2 separate regions of the Homo sapiens genome follow, and region 2 is linked to region 1. Evidence: fine-mapped QTL for protein levels in blood plasma. A gene starts in region 1. The other region holds a variant in brackets. All regions are shown on one strand. Distances are between the middles of the regions.

Region 1 (8,461 bases):
GAGCAAGCAGGGCACCAGAAGCTGGGAGCGTGGAGGGACGTGACCAGGGAGAAGTCCCCTGTGTTGGGGGAGGCCTGTGAATTTTAGGAACTCTGATATCTAACTCTCAAGGCATGTCCTTGCCAAGCAGCAATACAATTAAGTGTGCCTAATCTTATGGCTCCCACACTTTCAATTGTTCTTCCTGAAACAATTAGATATGAAGCCGCAAGAGCCCAGGCAGGGCTGGATTGATTCTTGAACTAATCAACATTTATGCCCTCTTGGCTAAACTAGGCAGAGTTGGTTTTATTACAGTTCAGATGTGATTAAGCACACTGTATTGTGTCAGCGGCAGGTGACGAGCCACACAGTGTCCTGAGGCCTGATGAAAGGGCTATGCCAACCACAGTCCCAGAGGAGGAGCTGGCTGTAGCAGCGACTGACCCAGGAGCTGAAGTGAGCCAAGCCCCCTCCTCCTGAGACCCCTGAGAGGTAAGGCAGGCTCATGCCAGACCCTATTACGTCCCACATCATGGCTAGAACCAGAACCATCTTACATGGCTGGTCAAGGCAAGGATAACCCCAGGAAGTCAGAGGACTTGGAGACTCTGTATTGTAGGAAAAAAAAAAAATACTAGAAAAGACACTGGAGCGTCACCAGCAGTCACCCCTGGATGGTGGCATTATTATTATTAGTAGTATTTTTTTTGAGATGGAGTCACTCTGTCGCCCAGGCTGGAGTGCAGTGGCATGATCTTGGCTCACTGTAACCTCCGTTTCCTGGGTTCAGGCAATTCTCCTGCCTTAGTCTCCTGAGTAGCTGGGATTACAGATGTGTGCCACCATGACTGGCTAATTTTTGTAGATGGTGGCATTATGAATATGGATTTTGGTTTTCATCATCAAATATTTCTGTTTTCCCCACATTAGCTGTAAACAGTATATATTTTTGGTAAATTAAGTTGAAAGAATGAAAAAATTAAAATAGTATAAAGAATATCTGTTTAAGTGCAGTGGAGTGTGCCTGTGGTCCTAGCTACTTCGGAGGCTTAGATGGAAGGATTGCTTGAGCCCAGGAGTTCAAGACCAACCAGAGCAATGTAGCAAGACTGTGTCTGTTTTATTTTAAAAATAAATAAATAAAACATAAAGAATAACTGTTTAAAATACTATTCAAAATGAAGTCATAAAGGAGGGGATTATGTTTTTTAGTCATAGTTCCCTCAAGGGCTCAGACCGGAGAACATAACCGAGTTTGGAGCCCTCTGGCACTGTCTTTGCGCCTGACCTCTGCTCTCCAGGGGGTGACGTGAGCTGGTGGGTGCTGAGTCATCATGGGTGGGTCACAGCCTCCCTCGGAGGCCTGGAGATGGGCCTGTCTGTGCTGAACTTTACTGGGCAGGGGGCAGCTCCAAGGCCCTCACTGGGGGCAGCCTAGAGCATAGATCACTCTCTGGACTTGCTCTTCTCCTAATAAATGGACAGTGATCAATGAATTACACCCATGAAATAGGGTGGGATGCAATAAGAAATAAAAGATAATATAAATAGCCAGATAGGGTCAAAAGATGATTTATTTTACTTTATATTTTTGAAATAATTTCAGATTTACAACATAGTTGCAAAAATAATGCAAATGTTTACATCTTACATAACCCAGTACAATGATCCTAACACTGACAGATTGTTGTTGTTGTTGTTAATTTGAGACAGAGTTTCACTGTTGTTGCCCAAGCTGGAGTGCAATGGTGCGATCTCGGCTCACTGCCGCCTCTGCCTCCCGGGTTCAAGCGATTCTCCTACCTCAGCCTCCTGAGTAGCTGGGATTGCAGGTGCCCACCACCATGCCTGGCTGATTTTTGTATTTTTAGTAGAGACAGGGTTTCACCATGTTGTCCAGGCTGGTTTCAAACTCCTGACCTCAGGTGATCCACCCACCTCGGCGTCCCAAAGTGCTGGAATTAGAGGCGTGAGCCACCATGCCCAGCTAGATTATTGTTAACTGATCCAAAAGCCTTATTTGGATTTCACCTGAAGTCCTTTTTCTGTTTCAGGATCCAACCCAGGTTCCCATATTGCATTCAGTTGTCATGTCACTTTGGTGTCCTTTTCTCTGGAGCAGTCTCTCAGTCTCCTTGTTTTTCCTGACCTTGAAATTTTTGAAGAGTTATTCTGCAGAGCAGTGCTATCCAATAGAACTTTCAGTGATGATAGAAATGCTCTGTTTGGGCCTGACGCTGTGGCTCACACCTGTAATCCCAGAACTTTGGGAGGCTGAGGCAGGCAGATCACCTGAGGTCGGGAGTTTGAGACCAACCTGGCCAAGGTGGAGAAACCCCGTGTCTACTAAAAATGCAAAATTAGCTGGGCATGGTGGTGCATGCCTATAATCCCAGCTACTCGGGAGGCTGAGGCAGGAGAATCGCTTGAACCTGGGAGGCAGAGGTTGTGGTGAGCCGAGATCACGCCATTGTACTCCAACCTCAACAACAAGAGTGAAACTCTGTCTCAAAACAAAACAAACAAAAAAAATAGAAATGCTCTGTGTCACCGAGTATGAAGCCATTAGCTACATGAAAATAGCATTTGAAATGTGGCTCATGGGCCAGGTGCAGTGGCTCACGCCTGTAATCCCAGCACTTTGGGAGGCCAAGGTGGGTGGATCACTTGAGGTCAGGAGTTTGAGACCTGCCTGGCCCATATGGTGAAACCTCGTCTCTACTAAAAATACAAAAATTGGCCGGGCGTGGTGACATGCGCCTGTAGTCCCAGCTACTCGTGAGGCTGAGGCAGGAGAATCACTTGAACCCGGGAGGCGGAGGTTGCAGTGAGCCGAGATTGGGCCACTGCACTCCAGCCTGGGTGAAAGAGTGAGATTCTGTTTCAAAAAAAAAAAAAAAAAAAAAAAAGAGAAATGTGGCTCGTGGGTCTCAGGAACTGGCTTCTAAGTATTATTTAATTTTAATTAAAATAGCTACATGTGGCTAGTAGCCATTGTATTGGATAGGACAGCTGTCAAATGTCTCTCGTTTTGGGTTTGCTTACTGTTTCCCTATGATTAGTTTCAGATCATGAGCTTTTGATAGGAATACCATAAGCATGTTGTTGTGTTCTTCTTTGTCTAAATCTTTATAAAAGCTGTTGATAGGTGGCAGGGAACCACCTAGTCAGGCAGTGGGATTGTTTGAATGCTCTTTGAGGTCCAGCAAAGACAGGAGTGATAGCTGCACTTGGAAGCCCGCTCCTACACTTTCAATGTTCTTCCTGAAAGAATTAGATATGAAGCTGCTAGAGCTGCTCCGGTGGGGAGCAGGCAGGATTGATTCTTGAACTAATCAACATTTATGCCCTCTTGGCTAAACTAGGCAGAGCTGGTTTTATTACAGTTCAGGTGTGATTAAGCATACTTTGTAAATGCTGAAGGTTGTGAAATATTCACAGGGATATAAAGTACAGTAATAAAACCTCACTTGAGGCTGGGCGTAGTGGCTCACGCCTGTAATCCCAGCACTTTGGGAGGCCGAGGTGGGAGGATCACCTGAGGTCAGGAGTTTGAGACCAGCCTGGCCAACATGGTGAAACTCCGTCTCTACTAAAAATACAAAAATTAGCCGGGCGCAGTGGCATGTGCCTGTAATCTCAGCTACTTGGGAGGCTGAGGCAGGAGAATTGCTTGAACCCAGGAGGTGGAGGTTGCAGTGAGCCGAGATCGCGCCATTGTACTCCAGCCTGGGCGACAGAGCATGACTCTGTCTCAAAAAAAAAAAAAAAAAAAAAGAATAGAAGACCCTGTGCCTGGAAGATCGTAGGTGCTCAGTAAGTGCTGGCCTCTGCCCCAGAAGGGGAAGGGCGAGGCAGATGGCAGGAACTGCGGGAGGTACCTGTCCCAGGCCCTTGGGCGTAAGAGGCCTCTCCCACGCAGCACCCAACCCATACCCAGCCTGCCCGCCAGCCAACCTTGGCGTCCCTGCCTTGCGCCTACCTACCCAGCAGTCCCCCGCCCGCTCCCACTCCCACAGGCCCAGCGTGCACGTCTCCAGGATAGGCATCCTTGCCCCTGTGACTTCAGCGGCACCCAACGTTTATTGGGCACTAACTGTATGCCAGGCCATGGGGGTGCCGGAGAGAACGACACGAAGACCCTCACCCCTCAAAGTTCCCAGGGGGAGGAGGGGCTGCTTCACTTGGGAAGCGTGGGGATGGAATTCTCAGCCCCCCGATGACTCCGAGGCCGGCCACCTGCCTGGTTTCTGGCCGGACACCGGACTTCCCCTGGAAGTTGCTCGAGACTGCGCGCCCCCAGCAAAAAATCAGGTCGGTTCTCCGAGCCCAGTCTAGCGCTTCCCGACCCGCAAACCAAGGCCCAGTGACCGTCCCCGCTGCGCAGCCGCCTGCGTCGCCAGCCAACCACGCGCGGCCGAGTAGCCCCGCCCCTCCACATGGCCAATGGCCGCGCGCTCTGCCCGCCCCGCCTCCTCGCTGCGGGAAGGGTCCTGGGCCCCGGGCGGCGGTCGCCAGGTCTCAGGGCCGGGGGTACCCGAGGTAAGATCGCTTCCCGGGCGTTGGGTCCTTTCGGCTCAGCACGCACGGACGCCTTTAGGGAAGGTGGCTGCAGCGGCAGGACGGAGTCCGCCGGGACGCCCTGGGTCTGGGGTGCGCGGGGGGCCCAGGAGGGGACAGGACGCGCGGGGATCCGGAAGAGCGGGCCCTGTCGCAAGAGTTTCGGGAACACTGAGGGCTCCAGGCGCCGCATCCAGCATCCGGGGAAAAGGGGGTAGGTGGCGCTGGGCGTCTGCTCAGGCTGGGGGAAAGGTAGGGCCAGAAGGGGACGGGCAGCGGCCGCTGACCTCCTCCTGCCGCCCGCGGGCCCAGGGTGACGCTAAGGTGGGGCCGAGCCTCGACCGGGTGCGCCTAGAGGTCGAGTGCTGCCGCCCTCCGCTGGGTCTGGACAGTTCTCGGCGGCGACACCAGCTCAAAACGGCCTCCCCGCCCTCCGCGGACCTGGGTCGCGCCCAGGAATCCGATCCAAGGCTGTGAGGCCTGTCCCTTTGGGAAGGGTGGGTGTTTATTTCCGGGATGCACTCAGAGCCTCTGGACAGTCAGGTCGGAAACTTTGCTGTATTGGGAACACTCTGTCACCTACTTCCTTCTCAGTTGGGAAGGAAGTGCCAAGAAAACATGAAACAAACCAAAAACACGAAAAAGGGATTCTCTGTATGGAAGCCGTGAAGCCTCAAAAATATCTAGGAGGACAGCCAGCGACCTGGGACCTGTGGCAGCCATGTGAAAGCAGGGTTAATGTCTGGACTAAATGTTGCTTCCACCTAAGTGCACCCTCAGCCTCCCTCCCGCCAAGTGACCTTGGGTCCTCTTTGGGCTTGAAGGCAGGTGGCTGTGTGGGTCTCGCTGCAGGGGTCTCTGTGCCCTGCAAGGTGTATGACCAGTTGCAGTGAGGCAGCAGGTTTTGGGTTCAAATCCTGTGCTAGCCTCTGGCCAGCTGTGCACCTTGGCAACACTTTCCCTGTCACGGGATTGGGGAAGGATTAACTGAAAGAACCTTAGGATGTGCCTGTCTACAATGGGCCCTCCATAAATGTGAACAAATGTGGGCTTCCTTTCCTTTTGTTTGGGCCACATCATCCCTTCCCCTCCATCTGTGGCTGAAGCTGGAATGCAGAAGAGTGCCTCATCTGACTGCCTTCTGGTACCTGGCTGATGCCATGAGAAAGGAAGGAGAAAGGGGTCTTTTTTTTTTTGAAATGGAGTCTCACTCTCTTGCCCAGGCTGGAGCGCAGTGGTCCAATCTTGGCTCACTGCAACCTCTGCCTCCTGGGTCTAGAGATTCTCCTGCCTCAGCCTCCTGAGTAGCTGGGACTACAGGTGTGTGCCACCATGCCTGGCTAATTTTTGCATTTTTAGTAGAGACGGGGTTTCACCATGTTGGCCAGGCTGGTCTCAAACTCCTGACCTCAAGTGATCTGCCTGCCTCGGCCTCCCAAAGTGCTGGGATTCCAGGCGTGAGCCACCGCGCCCGGCCGAGAAAGGGATCTATTAACTCCCATAGAGTTGTTCTTTGCTAATTTCTTGAAGGCTCAGAGGACCCCCGCCTCACCTTCCTGATTCTCCTGACCTGTCATTAGTACTTGCCCCACGAGGAATGTAGCAGGGCCTGCTGGCTGGCAAAGCAACTCATGCATGTGAGGCTCTGAGGCCAGTGACAGGACTGCTTCCCCTGTGAGGAAGGTCTGGTGGCCCAACAGCTTTTAGGTGCTGTCTGCTCTACAGCACTGCCTCCTGAGAGAGGTCTCATGCCTGCCTGATGCCCACTTGGTCCTCTCCTGCCTCCTTCCCTCCCTGACAACCCACTTGGAATCCAATAGCATCTCAAACTTCACTTGTTCCGAACTGAGTTCTGGAGTCCCTTCTGAGCCACTGCTCCTCCCCTGGCTTCTCTGGCCTGGTAAAAGGGCACCTTCCATCCACCCAGTGCCCAAGGAGTCATGCTTCTTTTCTCTCCCTTATCTCCTACACCCTCAAAACACCAGGAATCTGGCTGCCTCCTGCCATCTCTGTGGTTCCCATCCTGACCATAGTCATCCTGTCTCCTGGGCTGTGGCCTCCTTACTGGTCTCCCAGTTTTCATCCTGGCCCCTCCAAAGTCCTCACAACCACCAGAGAAGTCTTTAATGTAAATCAGATCCTCTTCTTTCCCTGCCGGAACCTTCCAGTGGTTCCCTGTTTCACTCCAACTAAAACCCAGAGTCCTTTCCTACAGCACTCTACATGAGTGGCCCCTGCCACCTCCTTGACCTTGACAATCTCTGCCCCTTTCCCTAGCTTGCTTGCTTTTTTTTTTTTTTTTCCTATGATGGAGTTTTGATCTTGTCACCCAGGCTGGAGTGCAATGGGATGATTTCAGCTCACTGCAACCTCTGCCTCCTGGGTTCAAGCGATTCTCCTGCCTCAGCCTCCCGAGTAGCTGGGATTACAGGCGCCCACCACCATGCTAATTTTTGTATTTTTAGTAGAGAAAGGGTTTCACCATGTTGGCGAGGCTGGTCTCAACCTCCTGAGCTCAGGTGATCCACCCGCCTAGGCCTCCCAAAGTGCTGGGATTATAGGCGTGAGTCACGCAGCCAGCCATCCCTAGCTTTCTTGACCTAGACCACACTGACCTGCTTTCTATTCTTCAAACATGCCAAGCTCATTCTTGTTTTAGGACTTTTGCATTTACCATGCTCTCTGCCTAAAACACCAATCTTCTCAGAGCCTGAGAACAGCTCAGCTGTGTTCTGCACGCTAGTTCAGAAAGGCTTCTTTGACCCCCTAGTTCAAGTAGCATGCCTGTCTCCAGGGGCTCTGTCTCATTACCTGCTTTACTTTCTTTAGAGCCTTTATTGCTATCTGGAACTCTTATTTGGGTATTAATTTACTGATCTGTTATTTGTCCCACCCCATTAGAATATAAATTGGATGTGGCATAGACCTTGTCTCTTTTATTCCCTGCAGCACTCCCTGATGGGGGCGGCAGAAAAGTAACGAGCAAATACATCTATAACTGCAAATTGTGGTAACTCCTACATAAACAACTGGCAGCAATTGCTTATATTTGAGGCACTTAAAAATTTTTAAGCTGGCTGGGCGCGGTGGCTCATGCCTGTAATCCCAGCACTTTGGGAGGCCGAGGCGGGCAGATCACGAGGTCAGGAGATCGAGACCATCCTGGCTAACACGGTGAAACCTGTCTCTACTAAAAATACAAAAAATTAGCCGAGCGTGGTAGCAGGCGCCTGTAGTCCCAGCTACTTGGGAGGCTGAGGCAGGAGAATGGTGTGAACCCGGGAGGCGGAGCTTGCAGTGAGCCGAGATTGCACCACTGCACTCCAGCCTGGGTGAAGGAGCGAGACTGTCTCAAAAAAAAAAAAAAAAAAAAAAAAAGAAATTTTTTTAAGCTGCTGGGCGCGGTGGCTCACGCCTGTAAATCTCAGCACTTTGGGAGGCCGAGGTGAGCGGATCACCTGAGGTCGGGAGTTCGAGACCGGAACATGGTGAAACCCTGTCTCTACTAAAAATACAAAATTAGCGGGGCGTGGTGGCTCATGCCTGTAATCCCAGCTACTTGGGAGGCTGAGGCAGGAGAATCGCTTGAACCCAGGAGGCAGAGGTTGCAGTGAGCCGAGATCGCGCCATTGTACTCCAGCCTGGGCAAAAAGAGTGAACTCCATTTCAAAAAAAAAAAAAAAGGCCAGGCGCAGTGGCTCACGCCTGTAATCCCAGCACTTTGGGAGGCCGAGGCAGGCGGATCACGAGTTCAGGAGATTGAGACCATCCTGGCTAACACGGTGAAACCCTATCTCTACTAAAAATACAAAAAATTAGCCGGGTGTGGTGGCGGGCGCCTGTGGTCCCAGCTACTCGGGAGGCTGAGGCAGGAGAATGGTGTGAACCCAGGAGGTGGAGCTTGCAGTGAGCCGAGATT
Region 2 (8,451 bases), 16 kb after region 1:
CATCTGCCGCGGGGAGCTGCAGTGGGTGATACTGCGGGACGATGCGTGTTGAGTATTGAGCTGGGCTGGGCACTTCCTGTATGCCCAGCACATGGAGTCTCCCCTAACTTTCACGGCTGTAGCATTCGCCTCCCACCCTTCCTCATTTCTTCTCCCCCACCTACTCATTCACCCTCCCTCTCTCCTCCTTCTCTTCCCCTCCCCTGGTTTACCCTGAGAGCCTTCGACGCCCTCTATCAGCTGCCCAGTTATTCTTTAAGTCCCTCTCAGTGTCCCTGCCACTCTGAGTGCTCGGAGGCGATTTGATGAGATTGAGTTTGATCCTGAGTGAGATCAAGACATGGGAGGAGGCTGGGCGCGGTGTTTCACACCTGTAATCCCAGCACTTTGGGAGGCCGAGGCAGGCGGATCATGAGGTCAGGAGATGGAGACCACCCTGGCTAAAACAGTGAAACCCCGTCTCTACTAAAAATACAGAAAATTAGCCGGGCATGTTGTCCCAGCTACTCAGGAGGCCGAGGCAGGAGAATCACTTGAACCAGGGAGGCAGAGGTTGCAGTGAGCTGAGATCGCGCCACTGCACTCCAGCCTGGGCGACAGAGTGGGATTCCATCTCAAAAAAAAAAAAAAAAAGACATGGGAAAAAAAATCAAGCCAGCCCTATTTATATTTCAAACTAGAGGTAACCCCCGAGACCCTGGTCACATTTATAGCTGTGGGACATCCATGTTTTTCTTTTCTTTCTCTCTCTTTTTTTTTTTTCCTTTTAGAGACAGAGTCTTGCTGCGCCACCCAGGCTGCAGTGCAGTGGTGCAATCATAGCTCACTGCAGCCTTGACCTCCTGGACTCAAGTGATCCTTCTACCTCAGCCTCCAGAGTAGCTGGGACTACAGGCATGGACAACTACACCTGGCTAATTTTTAAATTTTTTGTAGAGATGACATCTCACTATGTTGCCCAGGCTGGTCTCAAACTCCTGGGCTGAAGCGATCGGCCTCCCAGAGTGCTGGGATCATAGGTGTGAGCCACCGCGTCTGGCTCTCATGCTTGCTTTTCTCTCCTTTTTCCCTTCCTTGCTTTTCCTCCCTCCCTCCCTCCCTTCCTCTCTTCCTTCCTTTTTTTCCTTCCTTCTTTTTAAATATGTCTCTTCATGTGTGGAGATTAATAGTGATCCCTGGCTGGGCACGGTGGCTCACGCCTGTAATCCCAGCACTTTGGGAGGCCGAGGCGGGCGGATCACAAGGTCAGGAGTTCGAGACCAGCCTGGCCAATATGGTGAAACCCTGTCTGTACCAAAAATACAAAAAAATTAGCTGCGCATGGTGGTGCAAGCCTGTAATCCCAGCTACTTGGGAGGCTGAGGCAGGAGAATTGCTTGAACCGGGGAGGTGGAGGTTGCAGTGAGCCGAGATTGCGCCACTGCACTCCAGCCTGGATGACAGAGTGAGACTCCGTCTCCAAAAAAAAAAAACCCAAAAATAGTGATCCCCTGAATACAATGGCTGTGGTAGGGCCTGATGAGGGGTGGGGGCAAAGGGGAGGGGCTCAGGTGGCAGCATCAGGGCAGGGGTCAGTGAGCAATGATAGTCATGTGGAGGAGAAAGCCACTGGGTCCTAGGATGCCTGGGGACAGAGAAGAGTGACTGCTGACACGGCGTGGGTGACTAGAGACCCACGAGGCCCCCCCATACTCCCCTTCCTCCCTTGCTACCTTGTCCTCCATCTGCTCTCACCCTCCCACTCCTGCCCCCTTGCCAAGTGATGCTTGTCACTCCTTTTTTTTTTGAAATGGAGTTTCGCTCTGTCGCCCAGGCTGGAGTGCAGTGGTGCCATCTCAGCTCACTGCAAGCTCCGCCTCCCGGGTTCACGCCATTCTCCTGCCTCAGCCTCCCGAGTAGCTGGGACTACAGGCGCCTGCAACCATGCCCGGCTAACTTTTTGTATTTTTTAGTAGAGATGGGGTTTCACCGTGTTAGCCAGGATGGTCTCGATCTCCTGACCTCGTGATCCACCCGCCTCGGCCTCCCAAAGTGCTGGGATTACAGGCGTGAGCCACCAAGCCCAGCCCTGCTTGTCACTCTTGAGGAGTGGGCCCACATCAGAACAGCTTTTGGACCTATGGGTGGGGCGGGGGGTGTACCCAAGAGCACCCAAGCCTCTTTAATCATGAGGAGAACCCCCAATTCCTTTTTTTTTGAGACAGAGTCTTGCTCAGTCGCCCAGGCTGGAGTGCAGTGGCATGACTTCGGCTCACCACAACCTCTGCCTCCCGGGTTCAAGTGGTTCTCCTTCCTCAGCCTCCCTATAGTCCCTGATTCCTTCTATTTTTTTTTTTTTTTTTTGAGACGGAGTCTCGCTCTTGTTGCCCAGGCTGGAGTGCAATGGTGCAATCTCAGGTCATGGCAACCTTCACTTCCCAGGTTCAAGCAATTCTCCTGCCTCAGCCTCTCGAGTAGCTGGGATTACAGGCATGCGCCTCCACGCCTGGCTAATTTTGTTATTTTTAGTAGAGACAGGGTTTCTCCATGTTGGTCAGGCTGGTCTCGAACTCACGACCTCAGGTGATCCACCCACTTCGGCCTCCCAAAGTGCTGGGATTACAGGCGTGAGCCACCACGTCTGGCTTCTTTTTCTTTTTTTCCCCCGAGACGGAGTCTTGCTCTGTTGCCCAGGCTGGAGTGCAGTGGCGCGATCTCAGCTCACTGCAACCTCCGTCTCCCAGGTTCAAGCAATTCTTCTGCCTCAGCCTCCTGAGTAGCTGGGATTACAGGTGCTTGCCAGCACGCCTGGCTAATTTTTGTATTTTTAGTAGAGACGGGGTTTCACTATGTTGGCCAGGCTGGTCTTGAACTCCTGACCTCCTAATCCACCTGCCTTGGCCTCCCCAAATCCTGGGATTACAGGCATGAGCCATCGTGCCCAGCCCCTGATTCCTTCTTTTTTTTTCTTTCTTTTTTTTTTTAGACGGAGTCTCGCTCTGTCGCCCAGGCTGGAGTGCAGTGGCGCGATCTTGGCTTACTGCAAGCTCCGCCTCCCGGGTTCACGCCATTCTCCTGCCTCAGCCTCCTGAGTAGCTGGGACTACAGGGGCCCGCCACCATGCCCGGCTAATAATAATGTTGTATTTTTAGTAGAGATGGGGTTTCACTGTGTTAGCCAGGGTGGTCTCGATCTGACCTCGTGATCTGCCTGCCTTGGCCTCCCAAAGTGCTGAGATTACAGGCATGAGCCACTGTGCCCAGCCCTGATTCCTTCTTGATATCACTACATCTTTGTCCTCTAGGGACCTCGGACCGTCCCCCAGACCCACTGGAGCCACCGTCACTTCCTGCTGAGAGGCCAGGGCCCCCCACACCTGCTGCGGCCCACAGCATCCCCTACAACAGCTGCAGAGAGAAGGAGCCAAGTTACCCCATGCCTGTCCAGGAGACCCAGGCGCCAGAGTCCCCAGGAGAGGTCTGTCCTCATAGTCTACCTTGAGCCACCACTTTTGTGTTCCTATCTGCCCACTTCTGCCCATTGAGCCTTCCAGAAACCCTCTCCCGTCCCCTATAAATCACGCCTAATCTCTGCTCAGAACCCTAGGGCTTCCTCAGTGGGGATCTGCCCCAGACCAGCTTCCAGGCTGCTGACCAGGTCTTCACCCTGTGGCAGCCCTAATCCTCTGTCAGCAACCAGCTGGGAGACCACAGTTTTGTGTGTGTGTGTGTGTGTGTGTGTGACAGTGTCTCATTCTGTCACCCAGGCTGGAGTGCAGTGGAGTGATCTTGGCTCACTGCAACCTCTGCCTCCTGGGTTCAGGTCATTCTCCTGCCTCAGCCTCCTGAGTAGCTGGGATTACAGGCACCCACCACCACGCCCAGCTAATTTTTGTATTTTTAGTAGAGATGGGGTTTTGCCGTGTCAGCCAGGCTGGTCTCGAACTCCTGACCTCAGGTGATCTGCCCACCTTTGCCTCCCAAAGTGCTGGGATTACAGGCGTGAGCCACCGCACCTGGCAATGCTGTGTGTTTTCTGTGAGGTAGACGTAAGGACACCTGTGGACAGAGGGTCTGGGAATTACCAGAACCCAGGCAAGGGCTCCCCTGGCTCCTGTGCTCCATGGTGTGGGCTGAGGCCTATAGGAGATGCCCCAAGAGCACAAGCTGCCCTTTGTGAGCTCTTGGGAGAGGCAACTGCCTTATTCATATTTTCCCTCATTGCAGAATTCAGAGCAAGCCCTGCAGACGCTCAGCCCCAGAGCCATCCCAAGGAATCCAGATGGTGGCCCCCTGGAGTCCTCCTCTGACCTGGCAGCCCTCAGCCCTCTGACCTCCAGCGGGCATCAGGAGCAGGACACAGAACTGGGCAGTACCCACACAGCAGGTATGCATGGAATCTGGAATTATAGGGTCCTTCTGATCTCTCAAGTGAGGGTAAGAATTAGAGTTGCCCCATCTGGCTTCCTTGAACAGGAGACAAGGTGGGAATAAAGGGAGTTCAACCCAGGAAGCAAACCAGTTCCTTAGTGGGTGTATCAGTTAGCATTTGCTGTGTAACAAATAGTCCACTCCAGTTTTCCAAATTTTTTTTTTAGTAGCTTAAAATACAGCCATTTATTTAGCATATGATCCTGTGGGTCAGGCATTTGGGCTACCTACATGGGCATTTCTTCTGGTCTTGGCTGAATTTCCTCTCAAGTACTCACCGGTATATACATAAGTTCTGCCTCTGGCTGTTTGCTGAGCACCTTGGTTCTCTTCTATGTAGTCTCTCATCCTCCAGCACACAAACCCATCATGGCAGCTGGGCAGAGTTCTCAGAGAGGGCTCAAAACTGGCACAGTGTCCCCTGTGCTCCATTCTGTGGGCAAAAGCAAGTTATAAGGCCAGCCTAGATTCAAGGAGTAGGGAAATAGACTCCCTCCCTAGACGGGAGGACTGACAGGCACAGTGCAGTGGGGCTGGGTGGAGATGAGCGAGATAAGTAGGGCCATTTTTGCGCTCTGCCAAAGGGACTGTAGGGAACAGCCAGGGCCTATAGGGCAGTGGGAGAGGGACAGTGAAGGGCTGCATCAGCTGTTGGCAGGGGAACCTTTAGGCACTGTCTTACCGCAGAGATCTCCAGTTCCCAGTGAATCATGAAAACTTCTCAGTCCCCAGAGGAAGTAAGGTCTTCATCATCCAGTGGCCTGGACTCAACTCCAGATGTCAGTGCTCCCCCTCAGAAATATATAGTTGTCCATCTGGACCTCTCAGGCCAGCATGTCTCTTTCCTACTTCCCAAACTATTCCACATGACGCTGGTGCCCAGTCAGCCCTCAGTGCCCTGGGACAGCCACAAGACACATGAGCAGTTAGAGGCTGGGAGACGTCATCTTAGTACTTTTGTCATCCCCAAACTGCTCCAAGCACCTGTCTGCTTTGCAGTGTCACCTGGCCACGGGATGCCTTTCAGGAGTTGCTGTAGACCACAGAGGCAGAGGGCGCTTAGGTTTCAGTACGTTTGTAGACACAGGTCCCATGAGATTCTGTGGTATTAGATTGTGGTGGGGGAGCTGTACATCAGAATCACCCTGACTTTTGCCAGCTGTGGGGCTTGGCATGTGCATTCCGAGTTCCGTGGAGAGTCCTGCTGCAACTGCCTTTACAGACCATCACCACCTGCTATCCTCTGCTTCCCCCACCCAGGTCAGGCAGCCTCCCAGGGGTGGCTTTGTCCTTGTCCCCTCTCTTCCCAAGCCTCCGGGATGGCCAGGCCTCTCGGCTGGTGTGAGCTGTTCTGCATGAGCCATCCTGCCACCCCTTGCCCTGATCCATGGCTGCTCCCACTCATGGTGGTAGGAGAGGGACAGCAGTGGGGGAAGTGTCCAGGATTGCATGAGGCTAAGGTCAAAGTAGAAAAGGTAGACACAGGAGAGGGGAGGTTTCCCAGGTGGGAGAGGAAAAAGCGGAGAGAATAATTAATAATGGTCTTCAGGCTCCTAGGTACCATTTCACTGTGTGCCAGGACAGACCTGGGGCTACAGGTCAAGGACTGAGGGCAGCTGTTGGGCTTTCAGGCCAGGAAGCAGTGACCAAAGGGACTGTGGCATCTCCTCCAAGGGCAGGAGATTTGGAGGCCTAGACACAGTAGGGACCATGAGATCTGGGCCAGAGGGACCCTTCTCCAGGCCTCAAGGTAATGGTCTTTGGGTCTGTGTTTCCACTTGTGTTTTTCCACCGGCAGGTGCGACCTCCAGCCTCACACCATCC[C/T]GTGGGCCTGTGTCTCCATCTGTCTCCTTCCAGCCCCTGGCCCGTTCCACCCCCAGGGCAAGCCGCTTGCCTGGACCCACAGGGTCAGTTGTATCTACTGGCACCTCCTTCTCCTCCTCATCCCCTGGCTTGGCCTCTGCAGGGGCTGCAGAGGGTAAACAGGGTGCAGAGAGTGACCAGGCCGAGCCTATCATCTGCTCCAGTGGGGCAGAGGCACCTGCCAACTCTCTGCCCTCCAAAGTGCCTACCACCTTGATGCCTGTGAACACAGTGGCCCTGAAAGTGCCTGCCAACCCAGCATCTGTCAGCACAGTGCCCTCCAAGTTGCCAACTAGCTCAAAGCCCCCTGGTGCAGTGCCTTCTAATGCGCTCACCAATCCAGCACCATCCAAATTGCCCATCAACTCAACCCGTGCTGGCATGGTGCCATCCAAAGTGCCTACTAGCATGGTGCTCACCAAGGTGTCTGCCAGCACAGTCCCCACTGACGGGAGCAGCAGAAATGAGGTGAGTCCTCGCCCTTCCTGGCAGGGATCCTGGCCCCTTCCCCCGGGACAGCTTGCCCACCTGGCCCTGGCCTTGGCCCCTTCCCAGTCTGCATTCTGTGTCCAGCCTGTGCTGCTCTGTGGCCTCTCCTTGAGGGCATACAGACAGTTGAGAACCAGCCTCATGCAGGCCCCACACCATGTTCTCCAGGAGGAACAGTCATTGAGCTTCTAAGTCTGGACACCTCAGGAGGGTCAGCCACAGGGGGCACCCACTGGTCAGGTGTATAAGTTCATTTAGGGCTCGTAGTTCCTAGTGAAGCCGAGCGGTGCCGTTTTGCACATAAGGAAGCAGTGACGGGGACAGCACAGTGGCCCATCTGCCTCTTGCCTTGCTCTTCACCAGGATGCCTGGTGTGTCCCTCCATGGCCAGGCTTTACAGAACGCAGTCCCACCTGGAGCAGCCACTCGGACCCAGCAGCCCCCCATTGTTGCCTGCTCCAAGCCTCACATCTAACCCTAGCTGCGGCTGTCTGCTGGGAAGAGCCAAGTCCATAGGGCCCTTTGGGCACATGGCCAGGCCTCTGACCCTGTGGCTGCTCTCTAGTTCTCAGGCCCAGGCAGGATGTCAGTGCAGGATGGAGCCCCGCCCTACCAAAGGCTTCCAGGTGGGCATGAGCTCACAGGCAGGCCAGGGAGTAGGGAAAGGCTGCCCTGGAGGAGGCCACCATTGGTGCAGATTCTTGGTCCCCTCTACCCCCACTGCTCCAAGAAAAGGTGGCCTAGGGGCATTATAGATTGGGAATTGAGGGGTTGGAGTGTTAGTTCATGCCCTGGCCTGGGAATGGGACCGCCCTACCAGGTTCGTCTCCCTGCCAACCCCAGTCCCTTCCAGTGCTCTCCTTTCTTTCCCAGGAGACCCCAGCAGCTCCAACACCCGCCGGCGCCACTGGAGGCAGCTCAGCCTGGCTAGACAGCAGCTCTGAGAATAGGGGCCTTGGGTCGGAGCTGAGTAAGCCTGGCGTGCTGGCATCCCAGGTAGACAGCCCGTTCTCGGGCTGCTTCGAGGATCTTGCCATCAGTGCCAGCACCTCCTTGGGCATGGGGCCCTGCCATGGCCCAGAGGAGAATGAGTATAAGTCCGAGGGCACCTTTGGGATCCACGTGGCTGAGAACCCCAGCATCCAGCTCCTGGAGGGCAACCCTGGGCCACCTGCGGACCCGGATGGCGGCCCCAGGCCACAAGCCGACCGGAAGTTCCAGGAGAGGGAGGTGCCATGCCACAGGCCCTCACCTGGGGCTCTGTGGCTCCAGGTGGCTGTGACAGGGGTGCTGGTAGTCACACTCCTGGTGGTGCTGTACCGGCGGCGTCTGCACTAGTGAAGCCCTGGGCTCTTCCCACCACCCATCTGTTCCGTTCCTGCAGTACACCTGGCCCCTCTCCGAAGCCCCTTGTCCCTTTCTTGGGGATTGTGGAGGCTGGGTCAGAGGGGAGTTAAGGGACTGCAGGCCTGGCAGCAGGACATGCCTTGGCTGAACCAAGTCCTGAGAGCAGCATCTCTGTCCCCACGGTGCCTTGTGTGGGTCCCCGTCCTTGGCTTTCTGGGTCCTGGGCTGCCCCCAGTGCTCCAGACCTTCCCCACTGGCAATCCAGGTTATCATCCATGTCCTCCAGAGGAGCTTCCTCCTCCAGGCCTCAGCCCTGTTGGCCCAGGTGGAGCAGGAGGGACCA

Alleles and levels. Alleles are on the strand shown, and positions count from the first base shown. The strength of an association depends on the size of the effect and on how common the allele is.
As copies of T replace C in region 2, the plasma level of the protein whose gene starts at base 4,455 in region 1 goes down (moderate association).

What was found. PIP is the posterior inclusion probability: the model's chance that the variant is causal. The UK Biobank Pharma Proteomics Project read protein levels with antibody pairs (Olink). The fine-mapping took linkage between variants from a reference panel, not from the people measured, so its PIPs are less certain.
Region 2: its variant is fine-mapped to the plasma level of the MAVS protein (UK Biobank, PIP above 0.99). The variant lies in the coding sequence of MAVS. If it changes the protein, the assay may bind it differently, which can mimic a change of level.

What each region holds. Positions count from the first base shown.
Region 1 is chr20:3,842,380-3,850,840 of GRCh38, forward strand. MAVS (mitochondrial antiviral signaling protein) reads left to right here and starts at 4,455. Exons shown (of 7, transcript NM_020746.5): 1 at 4,455-4,524. RefSeq lists enhancers at 1,238-1,382, 2,371-2,510, a cis regulatory region at 1,305-1,315 and silencers at 3,872-3,921, 4,352-4,731.
Region 2 is chr20:3,858,049-3,866,499 of GRCh38, forward strand. It overlaps MAVS (mitochondrial antiviral signaling protein), which reads left to right. Exons shown (of 7, transcript NM_020746.5): 4 at 3,284-3,456; 5 at 4,206-4,365; 6 at 6,208-6,740; 7 at 7,635-8,451. The coding sequence ends at 8,099. Among named protein-coding and RNA genes, the nearest start is that of MAVS, 15 kb to the left of the region's middle. RefSeq lists enhancers at 1-123, 7,964-8,451. The variant C/T (reference allele first, on the strand shown) is at 6,234.